2 separate regions of the Homo sapiens genome follow, and region 2 is linked to region 1. Evidence: fine-mapped expression QTL. A gene starts in region 1. The other region holds a variant in brackets. All regions are shown on one strand. Distances are from middle to middle.

What was found. PIP is the estimated chance that this variant, and not a neighbour inherited with it, causes the effect.
Region 2: its variant is fine-mapped to the expression of DYRK4 in whole blood (TOPMed, PIP above 0.99).

The regions. Positions count from the first base shown.
Region 1 is chr12:4,556,473-4,567,416 of GRCh38, reverse strand. DYRK4 (dual specificity tyrosine phosphorylation regulated kinase 4) reads right to left here and starts at 5,209. Exons shown (of 15, transcript NM_001394779.1): 1 at 5,134-5,209. The coding sequence starts at 5,171. It overlaps RAD51AP1 (RAD51 associated protein 1), which reads right to left. Exons shown (of 9, transcript NM_006479.5): 8 at 10,915-10,944; 9 at 7,370-8,560. The coding sequence ends at 8,424. RefSeq lists an enhancer at 945-1,024 and a silencer at 5,080-5,374.
Region 2 is chr12:4,598,598-4,609,541 of GRCh38, reverse strand. It overlaps DYRK4 (dual specificity tyrosine phosphorylation regulated kinase 4), which reads right to left. Exons shown (of 15, transcript NM_001394779.1): 9 at 10,376-10,514; 10 at 9,754-9,835; 11 at 4,456-4,628; 12 at 2,155-2,215. It also overlaps the pseudogene LOC103568124. Among named protein-coding and RNA genes, the nearest start is that of DYRK4, 42 kb to the right of the region's middle. RefSeq lists an enhancer at 4,382-4,721. The variant C/T (reference allele first, on the strand shown) is at 4,690.

The DNA of each region.
Region 1 (10,944 bases):
AGGTGAGTCTCAGAGGGGTCTCAGGACACTTACATTCCCTGTTACATTAGCAGAGTACAGCTGAAACCGCTTGCTCTGTGTCCTTTGCAAGTCCCTTTTCGGCTTCTAGCTTTAGCCAAGAGCCAGAGGAATCAAGAATACAAGAAACAAGGGCAGAACAGGAACCAATGCAAATATTATGACAGCTTCTGCAAATCACTCCACTGGCAGGCTCTTGCAGACACCATATAAATGATGATGGCACCACAACTTTGAAAGTATTCAGAGGATTAAAGAAAAGTCATGCTAACATTTCTTGCAGTATAACTATTGAAAAATCAGAACTTGTCCATAATGGGAAGTTAACAATTCATGGCACACATATGTTTTATGAAATATAATGCAGCCATTTAAAAAATAAGATAGATCTTTATATGTGCCCATAATGTATTGAGCAAAAACAGTAGAACATGTGTGTAATATAATTCTATATTTATTTAACAGAAAACAAAATGCTTGCATGTCTTTATACAGGCATATTGAAAGATCTAGAAGAAATGAACTGTAATAGTGACCTCTTCTCAGTAGGGCTGGGGGAGGTAAGTAGGAACATTAACTTTAACATACACACACATACAGACAATATGAAAAAATCCTGCACAAAAGCAAACAAAAATTACCAGTAACTTCTCTGCTTAAGATCATAGTTTCACTTCTTCCTTCTCTTCCTTTCTTTCTATAAACATTTGCTGAGACAATTTCACTGATAAACCAGACATGGTCTCTGCCCTCAAAGAAAACTCCTTATCCAGGAAAGGAGGTACATAGAAGAAAGTAGATCATGACAATGCATGTGATCGATGTATTAATACAGCCTTCTGCAACCAGCTCCCAGAGCATGTTTCCAGGTGTTGACTAAGTCAGCTGGAGGAGCTGAGGAAGCCTTCACGCTTGAGCAGGGTAGAACCATCTCTGAAGAATGAGCAGAGCAGGCAGGAGTGTCAAGGGCAGATGGAGGAGGACACACAAAGAACATAAATATGAAAGAACATTGTTTTTTCCAGAAATTTTGAGCACTGTCCTTGGACATTGCCGATGGAGGGCCAGGGAGGTAGATTAGGTTGTAAAGGGGCACGTAGTCCAAGTTAGAGTCTTGGAGCCTGCGTGGCTATGCTAAACCTGGGCTGAAGATCAGATTTGTATTCTGGTACCATTTCTCTGGCAATATCACGAAGCACGATTTGGAGGAACTAGGAAGGCATTTTGGGTGTCTAGATAAGAGTGAATGAGAGCCTCAACCAAGGCACTGACAGTGGGGATAGAAGTATGAACTTGGGAAAGATTTGGGAGACAGAACAGGTAGAATTGTGGCCATCAACTGGACATGGGATTTGTAAAATCGCAACATTGGGCAAAAATGAACACAAAAATTTTTCCTGCCAAGACTCTGTATCGAGTGTTGCCTTCCTTTACTTCACAGAGATGTAGGAGACTATGAAAGTACATGTGGGATGGGCATGGTGGCTCACGCCTGTAATCCCAGCACTTTGGGAGGCCGTGGCGGGTGGATCATCTGAGGTCAGGAATTCAAGACCAGCCTGGCCAACATGGTGAAACTCCATCTCTACTAAAAATACAAAAGAAGTTAGCTGTGTGTGGTGCCTCACGCCTGTAATCCCAGCTACTCGGGAGGATGAGGCAGGAGAATCTCCTGAATCCGGAAGGCAGAGGTTGCAGTGAGCGGAGATTGCACCACTGCACTCCAGCCTGGGCAACAGAGCAAGACTCCATCTTAAAAAAAAAAAAAAAAGTAAATGTGAAATCTTCCAAACAGCTGGAGCCCTTTCCTCTGTTCAGCTCTGACAGCGCTGGAGGCAGAGAAGGAGCAAACACTGAAGGAAACGCTGAGGAATCATGGAGCCTCGTCACAATGCCACCTAACACACAGTGCCATGATTTTGAATGAGCCATTTGTCCTCTCTGTGCTATTTCCTCATCTGCAAAATAATGAGACTGGAGACTGGAGCAGGTGACTTCTAAAGTCCCTTTGGGGTCTAAATTTCTTTAATTCTACAAAAATACTGACAGACTGAAAAAAAAATCTCTTGTGACTTATTCCAACTTTGCCATCCCTTGGATAATTCTGTGATTATTAAAGACTATTTTGTGCCTTTCTTTTTTTATGCATGAACTCTGGCTTCCAACAGTACAACTTAACCCTTGCTCAAAGCTTTGCAAATGCTACCTTTTTATCCTCAAAATATGTGGTGAGCTATGTGGAAAAGAATTAAACTGCTTTTTATATTTCGTTTGTATCTTGTTACATGAAGGATTGAAGATAACTAATAAACTCAGCTCAGAGCTAGAGTGAATGTTCCTTTGAGAACTGAAACCAAAAGTTTGGCCATTCTCATTTCATCTTACATGCAGATCGGAGTTCTCCTTCCCCTTCCTCTCTTTCCTCGAGCGTTCAATCGTGTGTTTGCCTAAGAAACCATTTTTTCACTTGGTCAAGAGCTTTAGTGTCATTTAATTATCTTAGGTGCATATATTTTTTGTCTCATATTGATTGTTAGTCTTTTGGAGACATAGATGGTGATCCTGCATTTTTAAAAAATTCCTTTTGGGGTAAGGACAGTGACTTGTCTGTTGAAAACTTGGTACAAATTTGCTGAGGGAAGAGAAATCTAAAATAGATTAATTCATCAAAAAATTCCAGAGCATCAACTGTGTGCCAGCTACTGGGCTAAGCATGGAGGATTCAAAGATAAATAAAACAGAAGCCTTGTTTTCAAGGAGTTCGAAGACTCAAGGTTAAGGCAGATCCACAGAGGTGCCAGCCTTACTGCACTGCATAGTATTTTATATTAATATATACACATCATCTGTGTATAGAGTACTTCAATATCCAGAAAGGAAACAAGTCTTTTGAGATTTACCTGTTATGATTTTAGGATTTCTACTGCAATTGCCAGTAGCTTGATCTTTATGCCCTGGGGGCTGTCTTTGGGGCAGAAAGTATGGCAGTGCAGGGTTTGCAGGGATTCCGTTTGCATTCTGTGAACAGGTGATAATGTTTTTAATGAACTTAAGTTACATTCATTTTTTAATTGATATATAATAGATGTATATTTATATTTATATAATATATAATCAAGTCAGGGCTTCAAATTATTCTCTACTAGCTATTTTGAAATATACAATAGATTATTGTTTACTATTGTCATTCTACTGATTTATTAAACACTAGGTCTTATTTCTTCTATCTAAATGTATTTTAAGTCACACTCATTTCTGCCAGAGAATTCCTTGGACCCTCTGCATATATCCCTGAGACTCTTGAGGGTTCACTGACTCCCAGACTCTAAAGAGCTAGAAGAGGTTTTGGAGACCATGTCATCCATTTTCCCACCCTGGGGAAGAATCCTCTTTCTATGGTATTCCTGGCAATCACTCTGTCTATGCTGGAATATTTCTATGACAGAGTGCACTGTTTTTCTAGGCAACCCATTTCACACTCAACTGTTAATTTACATAGGGTTGGTACTTGATATTTCTTGGAAGAATAAACTATATTGAGCAAAATTTCCTCCACTGATCCTTGCTATCCTCTGCAGAGTACCAAGGAACAAATCTATCTCTTTTCTACTCAAGAGTTCTTGAATGTTCAAAAGTTGAGTAGAAAAAAGCTTTCTCTCCCTTGCATCTCCTCATCTCCAGGCATTCTGTGAAGTTTTTTCAAACCTCTCTTCATGTGATGGCACACCCAGGCCTGACAGAGAGAGCCTGCCTTGTGGTTGTTCCTATTTTCCAGTTCTTTGTGATCTCAAAGTAGCTACAGTTTCTAGAGTCTGGATTATGTTCTACTCATTGCTAAGTCAGGCAGCACGACCATATTCTTTGATGTGGTCATTGCATTTCTATGAATGCAGCCTCCACCAGCATTTGCTCTTTGGGGAGCCATCACAACACACTCACGATGGGCTTAGAGTCAGCTAAAACCACTAAATCCCAGCACTGGGTCCTCCACACGCTTGAGGACTATGCATTCTAGCCAAGTTGCAGGCAACAATATGTGGAGTTGGAGAGGGCAAAGTCAGGGAAGAGTGGCTGGCATATTGCTAGAGAGTCCCTTCCGATTTACCTCTGCTTTCTCCATAAGGACCAAAACAAACAAGAGAAACAACAGATTTAAGTAACAGAAACAATAAGGTAGAGTGCATGTTTGAAGAATTTCTTCGAACTCCTAGGTTTTACATACCGACCACATGTAGGTGATCAAATCGCTCAAGCAAGACAAAGGACATTTTCATTTGTTGTTTCCACGGTTTGAACTTTTCCACTAAATGGCCTCCTGCTTTTGCCGAGTCTCCACTTAAGCCTGGACAGTGAAGCTTGAATTAATATTGGTGATGCTGTCCGTTGCTTAAGACATGTCAGAGGGGTCACGGTTTTCCTAAGCTTTGAGGGGCTGCTGGACATTTCAAATGCAGCAAATGTCACAGAATAGCCTTTAAAAACCCTCAAATTGTGCATTGTTCATCTCTTTTTTAAGGAAAGATTTGCTAATATTGGGAATTTCCTGAGTGGCAGCTCTGGGTGTGTGATCTACACACACCTTCGCGCGCTTTTGTGTCAGGGGCTGGGCCCTGGTTGAGCACAGAGGTGCCCGGGCATATGGGCTGGGTGGGAACATGAGTAATGCCTGCCAGAGCCTCATCCACGCGAGGCGTGTGGTCGTGGACCCACTTACGACTACCAAGAGGACATGCAGTAAAGAAGAGAAAGAAAGGGAGGAAGAAAGTCTGGCGTCCCAGTGAGGGCTGGAAGCACAGTTCCAGGATAGGTCTGCTGAGTTCCTCAGAACCCCTCGCTCCCTGTCCTGCACTCAGCTGGAGTCGCCGATGCGACAGCATCTTAACATGGAAGTATACTGACGTCGGATTCCGGGGATGCAGCTGCTGCAAAAACTACAACTGTATTTTCTTGTCCGCGCACCACAGCCCGCCTCTCTCTGACCCACATTCCCCGGTCAGCTCTTGCATTCTGCACGCTTTTCATTCTCCCCCCACGACCCCGTCGACCAGAAGCTTCGTCGCCTGCCTCGTACTCGCGCCTGACTGCTCGTGAAGTACGAGCCTCCGCGGCCCTTACTTTGTTCCGGTGCGGATAGGCGGCGGGAGGAGCTGCATGAGGCCGGCGCTGACCGCCCGCCGCTGCGGGAGGCTGTGAGAGCCCGGCAGAGGGCAAGGGACGGCCACGCCCTCCTCCCGTCGCTATAGAAACGGCTCCCGCCCTTTTTATGACTCCAGAGCTGGAAGGGCTTTCTCAGGCTGTGGTCCCAAACCACCTTGCAGAGTAGCAGCCTGAAGAACATACTCCTCGTCCTCCTACTCGCATTCTCTTGCCCCAGTTCTTTAAAGTATAGGGCAAGAATTGAACAAAATCCCAGCATAAAGAACTTAAAGTTGGTTGCCCAGACCGGACACATGAAATTATCCCTACTCTCTCCCCTTCTTCAAGCGAAGCATGTGGTTATCAGAATTACATCACAGAAGTTCTGGCCGGGCGCGGTGGTTTTACACCTGCAATCCCAGCACTTTGGGAGGCCTAGGCAGACCACTTGAGGTCTGGAGTTCGAGACCAAACTGCTCAAAGTAGTGAGACCCCCCCGCCCCTGTCTCTATTTAGACATTTTTTTCTGTAATCCCAGCACTTTGAGAGGCCAAGGCGGGTGGATCACGAGGCCAAGAGATCAAGACCATCCTGGCCAACATGGTGAAACCCCGTCTCTACTAAAAATACAAAAATAAGCGGGGCGTGGTGGTGCGTGCCTGTAGTCCCAGCTACTTGGGAGGCTGAGGCAGGAGAATCGCTGGAACCCGGGAGGCGGAGGTTGCAGTGAGCCGAGATCGCGCCACTGCACTCCAGCCTGGCGACAGAACGAGACTGCATCTCAAAAAAAAAAAAAAAAAAGAAAAAAAGAAAAAGAAAAAGAAAAAAAGTAAGTACATAGCAAAAGTTCTGGGTAAAATCCATATATCAGCTGAACACTTTTTGAGTGCTTACTCTGCACCAGATTGTAGAAAGCATGAAAAGGGAAATTTGTAATTGAGTGGCAGTAGGTTGACCTGGAGGTGCACAGTCTGGTCCAGGCAGAAAAGACATTCAAATGAAGCTTTCTGAAAGAGCTGAGTTGAATCTGAGTCTTCAAGGACAGGCAGTAGTTGTCTACGTAAAGGAGGCAAGTCCTATTCTGAAGGCCAGAGCCATAGAAAAGCTTGGTACCATTGTGCCAGCACCCAGTTTAGTGGGGCAGGGATCAAAGTTGCACGTGGGCAGAGACAAGGTTGAAGCAGCAGGAAAGGGGGAGTCAGACACCAAGTAGGCTATGAACTCGACCAGGGTAAGGTGTGTATGTGCAGACTGCAGAGGGGTGTTCATGCTGACTTTATTTTATAAAACCCTCTGTGGCAATAACAATGGAAGTAGGCCCGAGTAGGTTAAGAATCAAGGCAAGGATGCCTGTTAGAAATAGTGAGTGATGATGTTTCAGAGTAAGGGAGAGCACATGGAAGAGTAGTTTTGAGAAATTTAGGAAATGGAGTAAGACTTGGTGACTGGATGTGAAAGTCGAGAGAAGACTCAATCCCAGGATGACACCTTTGGCACCTGCAGTGATGGTGGTGCCATTCATTTACCAACAGAAAACACAGGAGAGATGTCAGGGGTAGGAGGAGACGTTGAATTTAACAACTGATCTGCTACATCAAATTGTCAGTGGACCATCCACAGGTTCTGTTGTCAAGAGCATGGTATAGGGTACAGACCCTGACTTGGCAGTCACTGTCACATAAGTGACCCCTGGAGTTTGCATAGAACATGAAACTGGTAAGACAAGTAGGTAAAGGTGACACAACAGATTAGAAAGCTGCAAAATAATGAAGAGTAGGCATGGAGATGGGAAGAAATGACAAAGAAATGTGTCACATGAGCCAAGGAAATCAAATGTTTTCATCAGAGTATAATGAATAGGGTGTATAAGATTAGGTGAGAAAATTGTACACTGGGTTTGGCAACATAAAGGTATCAGTGCTTTCAGCCAGGCTGGTTTTAACATACTTTGAGGTAATTTTCAAATCCCCTGATAAACTATAAAGAACACGGCAAAAACAGGTTATTGAGCTGGTGCCAGATGATTAATCAATTATATCAGTACCTAATATACAGTAGGCTCTTATGTTTATTGTTGATCTACACCAAATAGAGTACCTCAGTGCTATGTAACTGGAAAATATGTTTTTAAAAAGGGGACAGGTGGGGCAGGTTAGGGGGCTGGTATATGACACTATAAAAATATACGTTAGATAAAAGAAGTGTACAACAGCAATAGACAAATGCTCACTTTAATCACAATTCTAAATTAATTATTTTCACATTAATATAGATATTTCCATAAACCAAGAAAAACTGAGTTATTATACATTTTTTAACAGCTAACATGATTTGAAAATTTTTTATTAAAAATTGATCAGAAGCTAGTTGAAATTCTCAATGTAAATATAAAATATTCATTACAATTGTTTTTCAAAGTAAATTCAGATCTAAGCTTCCTGAAAAGCTGTACTATCTCATATCATAATAGGGATGACTAAGTACTTGACAACTACTTTCTAAAGAACTTAACAAAAAGTGACTACTTGAAGATTACATTTACAACAGAAAGGCTAACATTCTCTGCGGAGCTCTCATTTTATCATGAAATGTGGACAATCAGGAACACGTGGATGAGTGGTATCAAGAAAAAGGGCATTTCAAAATATTTCCACTTTTATTAAAGGTTTTGACAATGAAGATTTCATAAAATGTCTTTAAATACTATTTTCTAGAGAATAACCATCTAAATCGGAGACATATGCCATAAAACTGCAACCATTTTAGTGTGTAAAATAATTCTAAGTTTGTACTATAAAAAGATTTGGCTAAAATACAAAACATCTTTGCGATAAAACTGACAACGTAGCTTAAGTAGCTTATAAGATTTCAGAAATGTCTTCTGAAAGAAATAAGAATGTTTTCCTCTGCCAGATAAAACTGAACAGTTAAAGTTAAGGTGCTATAAACTAGACAAAGCTAGAAAGGCACATCATGTAACTAGAAAAGAACAGCATGTGATGTGGACTTCATGTCGAACTGATAGAAAAACAGAATACGCTCTTCACAAGGAAAGGTATGAGAAGATAATTCTTATAAACAAACTTCTCATTGAAGTCTTGAAGAGTTTTACAGAGAACATAATCATAAAATGGCTAGAGGTCATTTATAGGACATGGTAATGGATTCCTTTATATTACAATACCTGCCTCAAATATAAACACAAATCAAATATAAACACCCTTGTAAAGCTGTGATTCTCCCAACCAAACATTCCTCCTGTACCACACTCAGGTGCTAGTGGCATTTGGATGCAAAGGTTTAACTCGTGCTAATCTGGACAAGCCAAGGCGGAGACTCTGATTGGGAGACTTCACAGACACTACCACCAGTGGGCTGCTGCTACTTCTGCTACCTCCAGATGCCGCTGAAAGGAAACATATGATGTGATGCTGATGATGTCAGAAATCTCTTAACAAAGATTAATTTATAAAATAAGCAGCAAAAAAAAGGTAGTTAAGCATTATTCTGCTTTCCAGTGTCTATCAAGCAATAAACTAGATCAAAAGAACAGAATGTTCTAAAGAGCAGAAATTAATACAGTATTGCCTATTTCCAAACATCCCAGAAGCCAAGGTAATGACACTAAAACCTCACCATGAAAGCTGAAAAAGGAAGGCTGGGAACAAATAATGCTAGTTGTAAAGGCATACAAAAATGCATATAATTATAATTTCTAAAGTAATAGAAAAAGCAAATGCATTTTTAAGGTCCTGCAATTTTTACAAGTAGTCCTTGAAGAGTCTATTTTTCAATTATTAAATACCTTTAAAAATGGCAAATATTGTTATTTATTTATACTAGTTTCATTATACTATTATCCTAATGTCGCAATTATTTCCATCTATTTCAAAATTATCCACATGAATGTTCACAGTTGATGGTGACTGTAGTTGCTCGCCTACACAACAGTATTATAAATTTAAAATAAATAATTATACCTGCTACCCTATAACTCAGACTATACTGCTTTATTGTTTTCTAGTTTGAAAGGTATAAAATAGTATTTTATTTTAATTTACACTTCCTTAATTACCAGTGAGACTGAAACTCTTCATATTTTCTTGTTGTATTAATAGTTCTTGGGGACACTGTTATATTTATGCCTCTGGCTAATTTTACTTTTGGGGTCTTGGTGGTCTTCTCCAGTTGTATAAGATAGGTAACAAACTGGCAATCTGAGGGCCAAATCTAGCTCTCAGATATATTGTTTTGGTTCACATGGTGCTAACAACAACAACAAAAAAAATCAACTTACAAAAATTAGCAGATTTCATATTAAAATCTGGATTTCTGGCTTCTCTTGAAAACAGCAATCAGATCTAGAAATACCAAGCCCATAATCTTGCATGGAAACAATACGATGGAGCTGAGTAGCAGCTGCTTCCTTCAAAAGGGTACGCGCTCCTGAGTCCAACAAAATTCCTACCCACGCAAGTCTACTGCATGGGCCCAATTCACTCGTTTACATCACTTGCCTGACTGTCACATGCTGACTTGATAAGCACTTTGTGCTTGATGACATTAACTCTTTATCCATCATTCCACTGTTTCCTTGTATTTTTTTAATTATGCTACTTTTAAATTTCTATAGTTATATCACTCCATTTAAATTTCCTTCATTGGGGAAGCATTAATTATTTTTAGAAATATACTAAGTATTACTCTTTGAATGATATGACATCAAGTAATTAATCTTCCCTCCTTTCCTTCTCCAAAAAGTTTTTAAGTCCTCATTAAAAATCTTAGAAGTTGTAAACCAGAATGGACTTTAAAGATTACAGTTGTTCCCAATATTTCACATGATGAAATGAAGACTCTGTAAGTTAAGTAATCATGCAGCCTCACAGCTCACGCCTAAATCTATGAATAGTAGTCAGCAGGGGAGTGAGCACTGTGGACCAATCAAGAGAGGCCCCTCAAAAGAAAAACAGGAGTAGAATTGGAAGGGCTCAGGCAAGGAGAGGGGACACATGAAGAAAGACACACCAGGCAGAGGAGGATTAAGAGAGGCCCTGAGAGAGGCATACATACAACATGTTTGAGAGACAAAAAGTGTTTCAATTTCACTGAAGTGGACGGTTCATGCAGGTGGATGACAGAAAGTAAAGACAGGACTGGTTAGGAAAGGCAGCAACAATTTGGGCCTGGATTAGGGTTTTAGTAATGTCAAGAAGGGTGAAGGTCAAAGAATTCTTGAAGGATCCATGAGACTTGGCTGTGGAGCAAAAGAAAACAGAGAAGTGAAATTTGTGAAAGCAAGAGGTTGAGTTTGCTAGGGCATTTGTTAAATGCTAGAATTGCCACATATAGATCCCAAGGCTTCAGTCAGACTGTGGAGGTCAGCAGGTCCTGAGCAAAAGATTTGCTGCCAGAAATACATACTTCAGGAATCTCAAATGTTTACACCCTTTAACACTGTAATTTTCCTACTAGAAATTTTATCCTAGGAAAATAATCAGTAATATGCCCAGAGATTTCTAAAATAAGGACATTTGCACTTATTGCAATCTTATTTATAGCACTGAAAAAATAATAAACCTGGATGTCCAATAATAAGGAATGGTTAAATAAATGAATATATGCAGCAACCAGGAACTTTGGTTTTGAAGAATATGTAATAATATGGGGAAATGCTCACACATGATGTTTGTAACTAGGAAAAAAATTTACCAGTGATAATTTTCCAAGCTCCTGTCCTTGATGATAAATATGCCATACCTGGTGGGACCCATTTAGGTTTCTTGCTTT
Region 2 (10,944 bases), 42 kb before region 1:
GAGACAACACCATTTTGCTGCTAATTAGGGGTATTAACTAGGAGTCGCCCGGGGCAGAGGAGCAGTTGGCAGCCCAAACCTGGGAAAGGAACAGTCAAGAACTGAAGTGGACAACCGTGTTTCCCAAACTTATTTTGTCATAAGAATCACAAGGAGCCGTCATTAAAAACGTCGAATCCTGGGTCCTATCGCAATCTTCCCATAGCATAGCTTATAGAAGAGAATCACAGGAATTCGCTTTTTTGCCAAGTCCCCAAATGATTCTTACATTTGGATAGAGTTTGGAAAACACTGACGAAGATGCAGTTCTCAGCAACATTCCTTCTTTCACAGGAAGTGAAGACATGGATATTGCTGCCAAAACCCCATCACCATCCTAAAGCCTAGTGCTGATGGTAGAAATAAGGAACTCTATGAAGTAGACATGCCTATGTCTTTAGTACGTTCCTACGAAGGTGCTCTGTGTTCCCTTCCTGCTAGTCCCCACCTAGATGCTATCTCATGAGTTCAGAGTTACAGGCTCAAGATATGTCTTCCCACAGTGACTCTGCCTAATCCAAAAGGCTGAATTATTAAGTTGTGGGTAGAAAAAGTATATTTGGGATCCAAAGACCAGTTCGCGTGCTCCATGTGTAAATTATACTGGGGAGCCAGCCAGATCCTTTGCCTACCGCCAGATTGCTCGGTTAATGTGTGGTCACCATTCTATGGCAACCAGGACACTGCCCTGCTCAGAGGCAAGGTCTCCAAAGCTCCAGCCATGATTACCAGATGATGTTTAAAAGAATTAACCATTGGAATGAATGGCATGGAACCAACTAATCAGAATGGAAGACAGCCCTGGCACTGGAGTAGGATCATAGAGAACTTCTGCTTGCTTGGCCTTCAGCTTTTAGGTTTTTGGATCATGGAGAGTTTAAGGAGTCCTGGGAGAGGGCCAGGGAGCCTGCAGTTGTAGCAGGGCTCAGGGCTGTGGCTTTTTACCAAATGGTACAGAAATAGACAAATTATAACCCCCACATGGCTGAATCAGTTCATACTGACCAGCATGACCCAAACCCTTTTATCCTAAAGGATCTCCCCACGAGAGTGTTTTGGACCTTCCTACTGATGGAGCAAGTTGTGAACAGAAATTGTGTGATTTGCATACATATTCAGAAGCTGCTCGCAGTTGAAAATCAGAGGTGGGAGGGCCAGGAATGTCTGGGATTGTGTGGTCAGAGGGAGTCCATGAACCGACCTGACAACAATGGCTGGTCAGAAATGTCACTCCAGGTAGCATGGAGTCCCTGTCTGTGGAGTTCCCTTTTCCTCCTATTTGGCTTTGCTCCACTTTGCTGACCTTCAGCCCACTCTGGCTGTTTCTATCTGGGACTCTTAGCTTCCTGTGGTTCTTTAAAGGGATTTTAGGTATGAGATTTGCTGCATCTTTTTGGTGCGTGTACGTTGAAAGCCCTGCCTCAGTTGATACCTTGTCGACCCATCCTTCCATCTTGTATAGGACCACTTAAATAGAAAGGCGGAGGATCATAAAAATCCAGAATTCTGGGAATTATGAGGAGAGGGGCAGCCTGGACTGTGGACGAAGTTTACTCCCAACAATCAGACAGATGACACGTACATAACTACCAGCCACAACACATCAAAGCAAAACTAAGTCCTTGCTTAACCATTGGCAATGAACCTGGCACAGTAAGGTCTGGAGGATAAGAAGAATTTTAGCAGGGGAAACAATAATGCAGCAATGGAATTTTCCACTATTCTTGAAATGAAGCTTCTGCTCTTTGATTTCCCTGCACAGTGCATAGTGTGAGAGGGCAAGTTGCTTGGGAGAGTGGGGAGAACTTCCGGGAGAGGATGCAGTTACAATATTTTGAGGTTGCAATATTTGCTGATAGCTCTTCTGAGCAGGGACCTGGCTATTCTCCTCCTCCTGAGCATTTTTACTGTCAAGACCCTGTTCCCACTGTGACTCCCCCATCCCATCTCCAACATGCTATCCGATTCCCCTGCTCATTATCTTTTACTTCTCTGAAAGACGCTCTTAATCACAGCCCTTTGGTATGTGGCCAGGGGAAAAGAATGAAATGAGCCTTAAGGTATGGCAGGTGTCTTCAAGGCCTGTGACACCTCATGAGACACACTAGGACTTACCAAAGAATGTCTGTCTCCTGGAGGCTGTCTGAATGAAGCCGGCTGGCGGCAGACCCAGCACCTTAATAAGGATAATTCAATTGGTTCATTCTTTGTGGGAGCACAGATTCAAAGGCTGAGGGGTGGAGCGTACTTTGGCCAAGCTTTGCCTTCTACAGATAAGGATTCAAAGCATTAAGTAATAACATCTGGTCAGTAGCAGAGCAAACCCAGAGCCTGGGCCTTTTAACTCCTAATCCAGGGCTGGTTTCATATCCTAAGAATCAACACTGGCCATGTTATTCTACACAAACATCAGCACCAACTAGGGGTGGGCCACCACCCTTGATAGCAGCCAGATGTCATTGTCAAAGCAAATAAACTAGTACACATGCTGCCATGTCAGAATTAAAGAATGATATATCCCACCATGGAGCACTGGAAAGGGAGAAGAAAAGATGAAAATCACCGGATGAGCATCAGACAATTATAAGACAAAATACCTTCTTGAAAAGAAAAGTGTAGCACCTACTTGTTCATCTTTTCCTACTGCAACTTAGAGGGGCACACAGAGATAAGGAAATTACAGTGTGGGTCACCTGCCCTTGCTGCTCGGTTCCCACCCATAATCCATCCATTATCCTGCTCTTCTGTTCCTCAGACCCTTTGACACTGAGGTCAAGAGGAAGCTGAGTCAGTTCTGGGGCTGTAGGAAATTTGAAACATAGGCCCCGTTCTCTTTGGTATTGGAAGCAGGAGTGGTCTGGGGATGCTTTATAAAATCATTCATTATCAACCTTAGAAGCCATCTTCTCTGCTCCCCTCATTTTATAGTCCAGAGCTGGGAAATGCCTAGTCAAAAAGACAGAGCCAGGACTAAGACCCCAGGTTTAATGACTCGCAGGCCAGTGTTCATTCCACCACAGCTATTTTTACCTAAGTTATTTTAATATTTTATTATTAGTTTCGATCATGAAATGAAATTATCTATGTTTAGTCATTCTCAAGGCTATATGTGTTTCTCTGTAACTTTGAGACAATCTGGAAAATAGAAATTTGGCAAAGATAGATAGATACAGATACATAGATAGATAGATAGATAGATAGATAGATAGCCAGCCAGCCAGCTAGCTTGGTGTTTGCACACAAAATATCTTTGTTCACTGGGAAAATCCTAAAATGTAAAATTTAAAATTTTTAAAGTTATTTTTCTATTTTGTCTAATTTATTTCCAAAACAAGATGGCTTTCAAGTGAAAGCATAATAGATATAATTAATAATCATATCATGAGTCTTGGTCAAGCCTTGCTATTAGGAGATAGTTTTCCCAGAAAACTGTCATTTCCCATAATGAATGACTAATGCCTGAACAATACACATACTTTGAAGTCAAATAATTTCCAATTCTTTGTTTTCAACATTTTAATCGGGTTGTCAGCTGACAGGCTGGTAAACATAATTTTAGATGACAGATCACCATTTGATTCTTACACAGAACTCAAAAGGAGTCACCGAATTAGACGACATTAATTAGAACAGGCTTCCTCACTGGGTTCACATCTACACCACCAAGCAATTGGAATCACATTGATCCCGAGCCCGGGCATTCTAGCAAGAAGCATTATTCACCTATGGGTATAGGCATTAATTTGGAAAAAAAAAAAAAAAAAAAAAAAAAACCCAGCTCTATTCATTTTTCTAAGAGCTGTATGCCCAATAAGATTTCACATTTTATTTTCAATAATTATCAAAATTTGCACACCAGATATATTTTAATGGTAACTTACCAGAAAGAAATTTTTACACATGAGGCTTACGGTATCAGGAAATTTTTAAAGCTATAATGATTGATAGAAGTTTCTAAACATAAACGTATATTAAATTAGAATAAAATTCCATAGAGGAAGTAGAAAAAAGAGTAGAAACAAAAGGGAAAAAAGAACAAAGTAAAATCATGGCACAACTCTTAAGAACCTGTTCACATACTATCAGATAGATTTTAATGGGTGTCATGTCCGTCTGGTTTTGCATTCTTTTGGATATTTTTGAAAGAGCGGTGTAATTTTATTTTAAAATGTCACTATTTACAATATGATGGAAATGACATCCTCTGCAACTATTTAAATTTATGATAAAACGTTAGATGTCGACTTGACAAGTACAAGGGAGTACACAATTTCAAAACTCCTTTTAGGGAATACTCAACAACAACAACAACAACAAGGTATGCAGGCCATGGTCCTGGGCGAGTCTGGTGCAGCCCCGTGTCTGAGGGCCAAGCCCACGGTCTCCGTGGGAGCCGACCGCCAGCCCTCCGCGTACCTCCATGATGCAGGCCAGCTGCTCCACCTCATTCTCCCCGGGGAACAGGGGGTAGCCCGTGTACAACTCCGCCGTGATGCAGCCCAGGCTCCACATGTCAATGGCCACGTCGTAGGGGTGGCCCAGGATCACTTCTGGGGATCGGTAGAACCGGCTTTGGATGTACGTGTATACTGCGGAGGCAAAGTAAGAGAAACCTCGTGGGACAAACTTCTTACCCTCCAGAACGCTCTC[C/T]CCCAGGACAACTTCTCAGTTAGACTGCGCCCCCGCTGGCAGTGAAAGGGAAGTGCAGCTGGCCAGCACTTAGAACTCCCATTACACCATCACAGCATCAAATCCGCCAGCAACCTGATTATAAAGGAGGTGTGACTGTCCCTGCTTTATTGATAACGAACTCCAACGTGGGCACTGTCGTAGGAAAGTGAATCTAAGTGAGCCAAGTTTATAACAAACAAACAAAACATAAGACAAATATAAGACTAAGTTTTCAAACTGTCAGATTGATTTGGGGTAGACAGCTTCTGAGTCTTGTGACTTGGCAAGAGAGTTATCAAGTTAGAAAGGGAGCATATCAAGTTAGAAAGGGAGCATGCAAAGTCTGTATTCAATATAGCATGTGCACTTATTGTATAGAAAGAAAATTCTCAACAGGTGAGGATGAACAGACTGAAGTCGAAGAAATGGAACACGGTAGTTATTTCCGCATAACTGGGGTTTCTGGTTACCTGGGGAGGGGCAGGGATTCTGTAACCACTTTTCTGTTGTTTAAATTGGTTATTGTCAGAACATAATTCTGTGATTTAAAACAAAATAGAGATTTAATAAAAATAATGTTTATATCCTGCCTGCTTCCCAAATGTGTTTGTGGTACTTTGCAAAGTACACATGCACAGAGTATTTTAGAACATGGATTTAATGGTATTTACATTATGTTTAGTATGTGCCAGGCACGATTCCAAGTACTTTTATAGATAAGCCCTTTCAACCCTTACATTAATTCTGTGAAGCAAGTAGTATTATTGCCTCCAATTTAAAGAAGAGAAAACTGAGGCATACAGAGGTTAAAATGTCAAGGTTACTCAGCTATAAGTGACAGAGCTGGGATTTGAGAGTAGGCAGTTTAATTCTAGCATCAATATTAGATACTGCCTCACAGTTAAAATAAAGATAAAAAAGATGTCAGAAAATATGCAAAGGGGGAAATGACTGCTAGAAACCAAGGATAAAATAATTACGAATTCAGTTCCGAGCATCTTGGCAGCCAAGATAAATGAAAACTGAAAAGTTACACAGCTTTCAACATCTGAGAAGGGAAAACATACAAGTTCTTTGTGGGAAGCATTACTTTTTAGCTGGAATTTCTTATAGGATTCATACATAAAGACACAAAGGTTTTATGTCCTCAAAAATTGATCTGCCAGAGAGGCCCAGATGGAGGACACAGAGGCATGCTGTTGCCATGGCAGTGTGGTCCTGGCTGCTGCGGAGGCAGGTGCCAGGGTCTCCCTTGCCTCGATGTGAAGAGCTTAGAAAGCGGAGGAGAGGAGAACTCCCCTGGCCGTCTCTGTGACCCCAGCCGCCGCATTTTACACAGACAGGAGGGAAACAGAGGGAGAGAAGGGAAGGACGGTGTGGAGTAGAAATATTAATGGTGGGAGAGAGGAAAATGAATGAAAATAAAGAGACTGATTCAAAAGAAAGTGAAGAATACAAAGATGAATCTGAAAAGGACCTGGAGGGGTTAACTAATGAAAATGAAAAAAGTGATGCCAGCATAATAGAGATGGCTTGTGAGAAGGAAGAGAATATTAACCAAGACTTAAAAGAGAATGAAACAGTAATAGAACACAGCAAACAGCTTTCTGATCCTGACAAATCTTTGCAGGATGAGGTCTCACCAAGAAGAAATGACTTCATTTCGGTACCGAGTATTCAACCTTTGGATCCCATATCAGATTCAGATAGTGAAAACTCTTTCCAGGAGTCCAAACTAGAAAGCCAGAAAGACTTGGAGGAGGAAGAGGATGAGGAAGTAAGGTGATACATTATGGAGAAAATTGTACAAGCTAACAAGCTTCTATAGAATCAAGAACCCGTGAATGATAAAAGGGAGTGAAAATTTAAGCTCAAGGACAAATTAGTTGATCTGGAAGTTCCTCCACTAAAAGACACTAATACTTACAAAAGTTATTTTGAAAATGAAAGAAATATATTTGGGAAACTGTCACAGTGATGTATTTCCAATGATTTGGGACAAGAAAATATGCTCCTGTCACTTATTAATGGAAGCTGTGAAATAAACAAGGATAGGACAATACTGGTAGAGAGAGATGGAAAATTTGAACTTCTGAATTTACAAGACATTGAAGAGTCAGGGGTATTTGCCTCCCATTAATAATGCAAATAGTACAGAAAATGACCCTCAGCAGGTGTTACCCAGATCTTCCAACTCCTGTGTCAGTGGCATCAAGAAAGAAGATTCTGCAGCAAAGATTGATGTTGTCACTCACTCATCAACAGGAGAGCCGTTGGCTTATATCCCTCCACTTATAAGTTGGCTTATATCCCACCACTCAACCGCAAGACTTGTCCAAGCTCTGCTGCCATCTCAGATCGAAGTAAAGGGAATGGGAAATCTAATCAGGACAGTCTGCACATATCTCATCAGTGACCTCAACATACTGTCTTTCCCCTTGACAGAAAGAACTACAAAACGAGAACAAAAGAGAGAAAAGCTGAAAAGAGAGGAAGAGCAACAGAAAATAGAAGAAGAGGAAGAAAAAAAGAGGGAGAATGGCATAGTATTTAAAGCATGGTTGCAAAAGAAAAGAGAGCAGGTCTTAGAAATGAGGAGAATTCAGCAAGCAAAGCAGATTGAAGACATGAACAGCAGAGTAAGTAAAACTTTTCTGAAAAATAAGTTCATACAGATATGAAAGCTGAACTTAATTACAAAAGGGAGTCTGGATATCAGCCTATGAAAGAAGTAGAAAAGTGGTTCAAGAACTACCCTTGAGAAAGATGCAACATGCAGATAACTTTCCAATTAGGTTCTAAGAGGCCTTGTGAAAATAAAATGATTCCTATTTTGTTCAGACTTTGAAGGAACAGAAAATAGAAAATGATCAATTCATTTTTTCAAGATGCAACTTTGGTATTCAAACAGGACAAAGATACACACACACACACACACACACACACACACACACAAACCCTACAGACTGGTCTCACTTAAGACTAGACATATGGAAATCTTATGTAAATCTTTAGCAAATTAAAGACACCAAATTATTTAATTTAAAAAAATTTTAAAAATTGAAAATCCAAGAGAAAATTTTGAAAATCATCCATATCCTTACTAAAAAAAAGATATATATGTAAAGTAAAAGTTGAAAATTCAACCCTAAGCTCTTCCAGGCTCATCTCCAGTGATAACCACTTTTAACAGTGTGGTGCAAATCCTTTTATATCTTCTTTATATTTATACATTTACATGTCAAAAGTTTCATTATTCAGTTTTTTTTCCACTTACTTCATCATGGACATCTGTCTAGGCCATTACATTTAAATCTCTCTTTTCAAATAGCTGCGTGGTATTACAGCGTTAATTTATTAAACCCTTCTTCATTTGTAGATGTTTAGGTTGGTTCCAATGTTGTGCTAGCTAACAGTGCAGTAGTGAAGATGTACATTCTATGAGAACATCTGTAATCTGTAGGAGAGGTTCTTCAGAGGGGAATTTATAATTTTTGAAGGTTTAGAGTGAAATGTTTGGTTACAGATGCAAAAGTATCCTCCCAAAAGATAATATGAATTCACAGTTCCTCCAACAGTGTGTGAGAGTGAATGGCTAACACTGTATGTGGTGCATTGACTTATTTTTTTCTTCAAACTAATAATATACATGCTTGTATATGAGCATGTGTGAGACACAATAAGAAATAGATATAGGACTTTACCCCTAGTTTTTGGAACAGAGCTCCTAAAACCTTTTTAATTTCTTGAGTGATAGGGGTTCTACATGTATCTCTTGTTCTAATAATTGACCTTTTATCCTGGCTTCTGACACAGAGCTCCTAATCCTTTGGAACTTCTTAGGTGATAGGACTCTCTTTGTTCTAATGAGATGACTCTTGGTGGGCTCCTGAATAGGGGCTGGTTGCCAGAAAGACTAAGCCATGATTAGAAACTTGGAACTTTCAGTTCTAACTCCTTTCTTCTAGGAAGGGGGAAGGGGCTAGAGATTGAGTTAATAACTTCAATGACTATGTGATGACGCCTTCATAAAAATCCCCAAGCTGCAGGATTCAGAGAGCTTCCAGGGTATGGGAAACGTGGTGTTGGGAGGGTGGCGTGCCCCCAAGAGGGCATGGAAGCTTCACACCCCTTCTCAATACTTTGCCTTGTGTATCTCTTCATCTGTGTCTTTTATTATATTCTTTATTAATAAACTTGTATATGTGTTTCCCTGAAAAAAAATTGATCCACCAAATATTTGGAAACATCCATCTAGTAGTCCCGTCTTCAGCCTCAGGAAGCTTCCTCTGACAGCCCTTGCCACCTTAAAAGCTGGTCCCAAAGTCCCTGTGTTGTATATCTTTAACACAGCCTGTGTATATCTCTAATCATTGTATTCACCATATTATTTTTATCTTTCTGTCTCTTACATTAGATAGTAAGCAACCTGAGGACAGGGAATGTTCACTAATTGTTCCTGGTACCCAGGACAGTGACTGACACAAAACAGATCACAAATGTCTGTTGAATGGTACGTGTTCTCTATAGCGAACCTGATAGAAGCCGAAAGAACACAATATTAAATAAAGTTCAGTAAACGCTGTGAAAATGTACTCCAGAGCTACTTTTTTGGATCCTAGCTTGAAAAAGAATAAAACCTAGAGGATCTGGGGCAGTGAATTCCAAACTTCAGAATGACTGTGGTTTCTGAAGCGCAGACTTCTAGCTACTTCCCAGAAATTTGAATTAGGAACAAACTACAATTTTTCAGAGCCCCAAAGCAATTCAGATACACAGTTAGTTAGTTTTGGGGCTCACTGTTCTAGGATAATTCCATATCTACAGAATATGAGAGCTTGAAAGCACCCTTCTAGTATTTGGATACAACTTTCTCAAATTGTAGATGAGGCAACTTGGGCTCAGAGAAGCGAAGCACCTTGTTCAAAATCATACTGGTAGTGGTGACAGCTGAGCGCAGCCTAGAAGGCAGGTGACCTTGTATGTGAAGGGAGAGAAATTGCAATAGGAAAACTCAGATGATGGGACTGACATGGGGCTCACCTTTCTGGTGTTCATAACAGCTTGATCCAAAGTCAATGACTTTAACAGAGGCTTGGCCCTTTTGGTATAGCACTATATTTTCCTAGAGAGAAGAAAAGACATATGTCAAGCTACAGTAATGCGGCCCTAGGCCCTCTACTTACCTAAATGCTCCTCATCCTTCAGGGCCCAGTTCAAATATGACCACCTCCATGGGCATCCTCCCACATCCTCTCCAAAATCCCATCATCCTCCGCTCTGACTTTCCATTTGACTTGTGGTCGGCGTTTCTCATTCAGACCTCATAGTCACTGCTTTGCACAGTTTCTTTTGCATATATTTGTCACTTTCCCCCTATTGATTCTGCAACTCCTGAAGATAGTGACTTTGTTTTTATCTTCTTTGGCACCTGGTTCTAGGCCTTGCTTGCACGGCCTTAGAAATGCCATTGACTGAATTTGTTCGACATTCCCACGAAATGCCCTCCCTTGATATACTGCCATGACAGTAGAGCACCAAAAAAAAAAAAAAAAAAAAAAGTCAAAGGCAATTATTTGATTGGAGTTTGTGATTGTTACACGGCCTGGGGAATAGAATGGGTATTTCCAGAGTGTGTCCATGGCAGGACGGAGATGGTACTCACGGGCTTGAGATCACAGTGAATGATTTTCTCTACCGAAAGCATCTGCAAGCACTTCAAAACAGAGAGAGTGAAGCGCCGAACTATGGACAGACTGAAGCCTTGAAAGTTGTTATTCTTCATCAACTCATACAAGTTGATTCTGGAAAAGAGGGGAAAAGTGATGCATATGGGTGTAAAAAAACATATAAGGCTGAGTTTGAACCTGCAAACAATCTTGTATCACCTGGTTTCCGTCTAGTAGCAGGCAAGCCTCAGGCCAGGAGGCAAGGCTTTCATGCCCTTATAGACTCAGCTTTCCCACTGAATCGTGGTGGGCGCAGGGTGAAACTGTGTCAGACTCTCAGATGTCCCCTCATTTCTGATGTGACAAGGCCACTGAAGCACTTTGTTATGCAGGCGGGTTAAGAGGTTGGCCCAAACTTCTGAAATAGTCATAGTTCCTCAGGCCCTTGGGAGGGAACCAGGAAGCCCACCAGTCACTCAAACAAGCAGCCACTCCTGCCCAGGCCTAATAAGGGCTGTCTAAGGACATGAGGTTCCTGACAAGTAAGGAACAAGAGAGTGGGCAG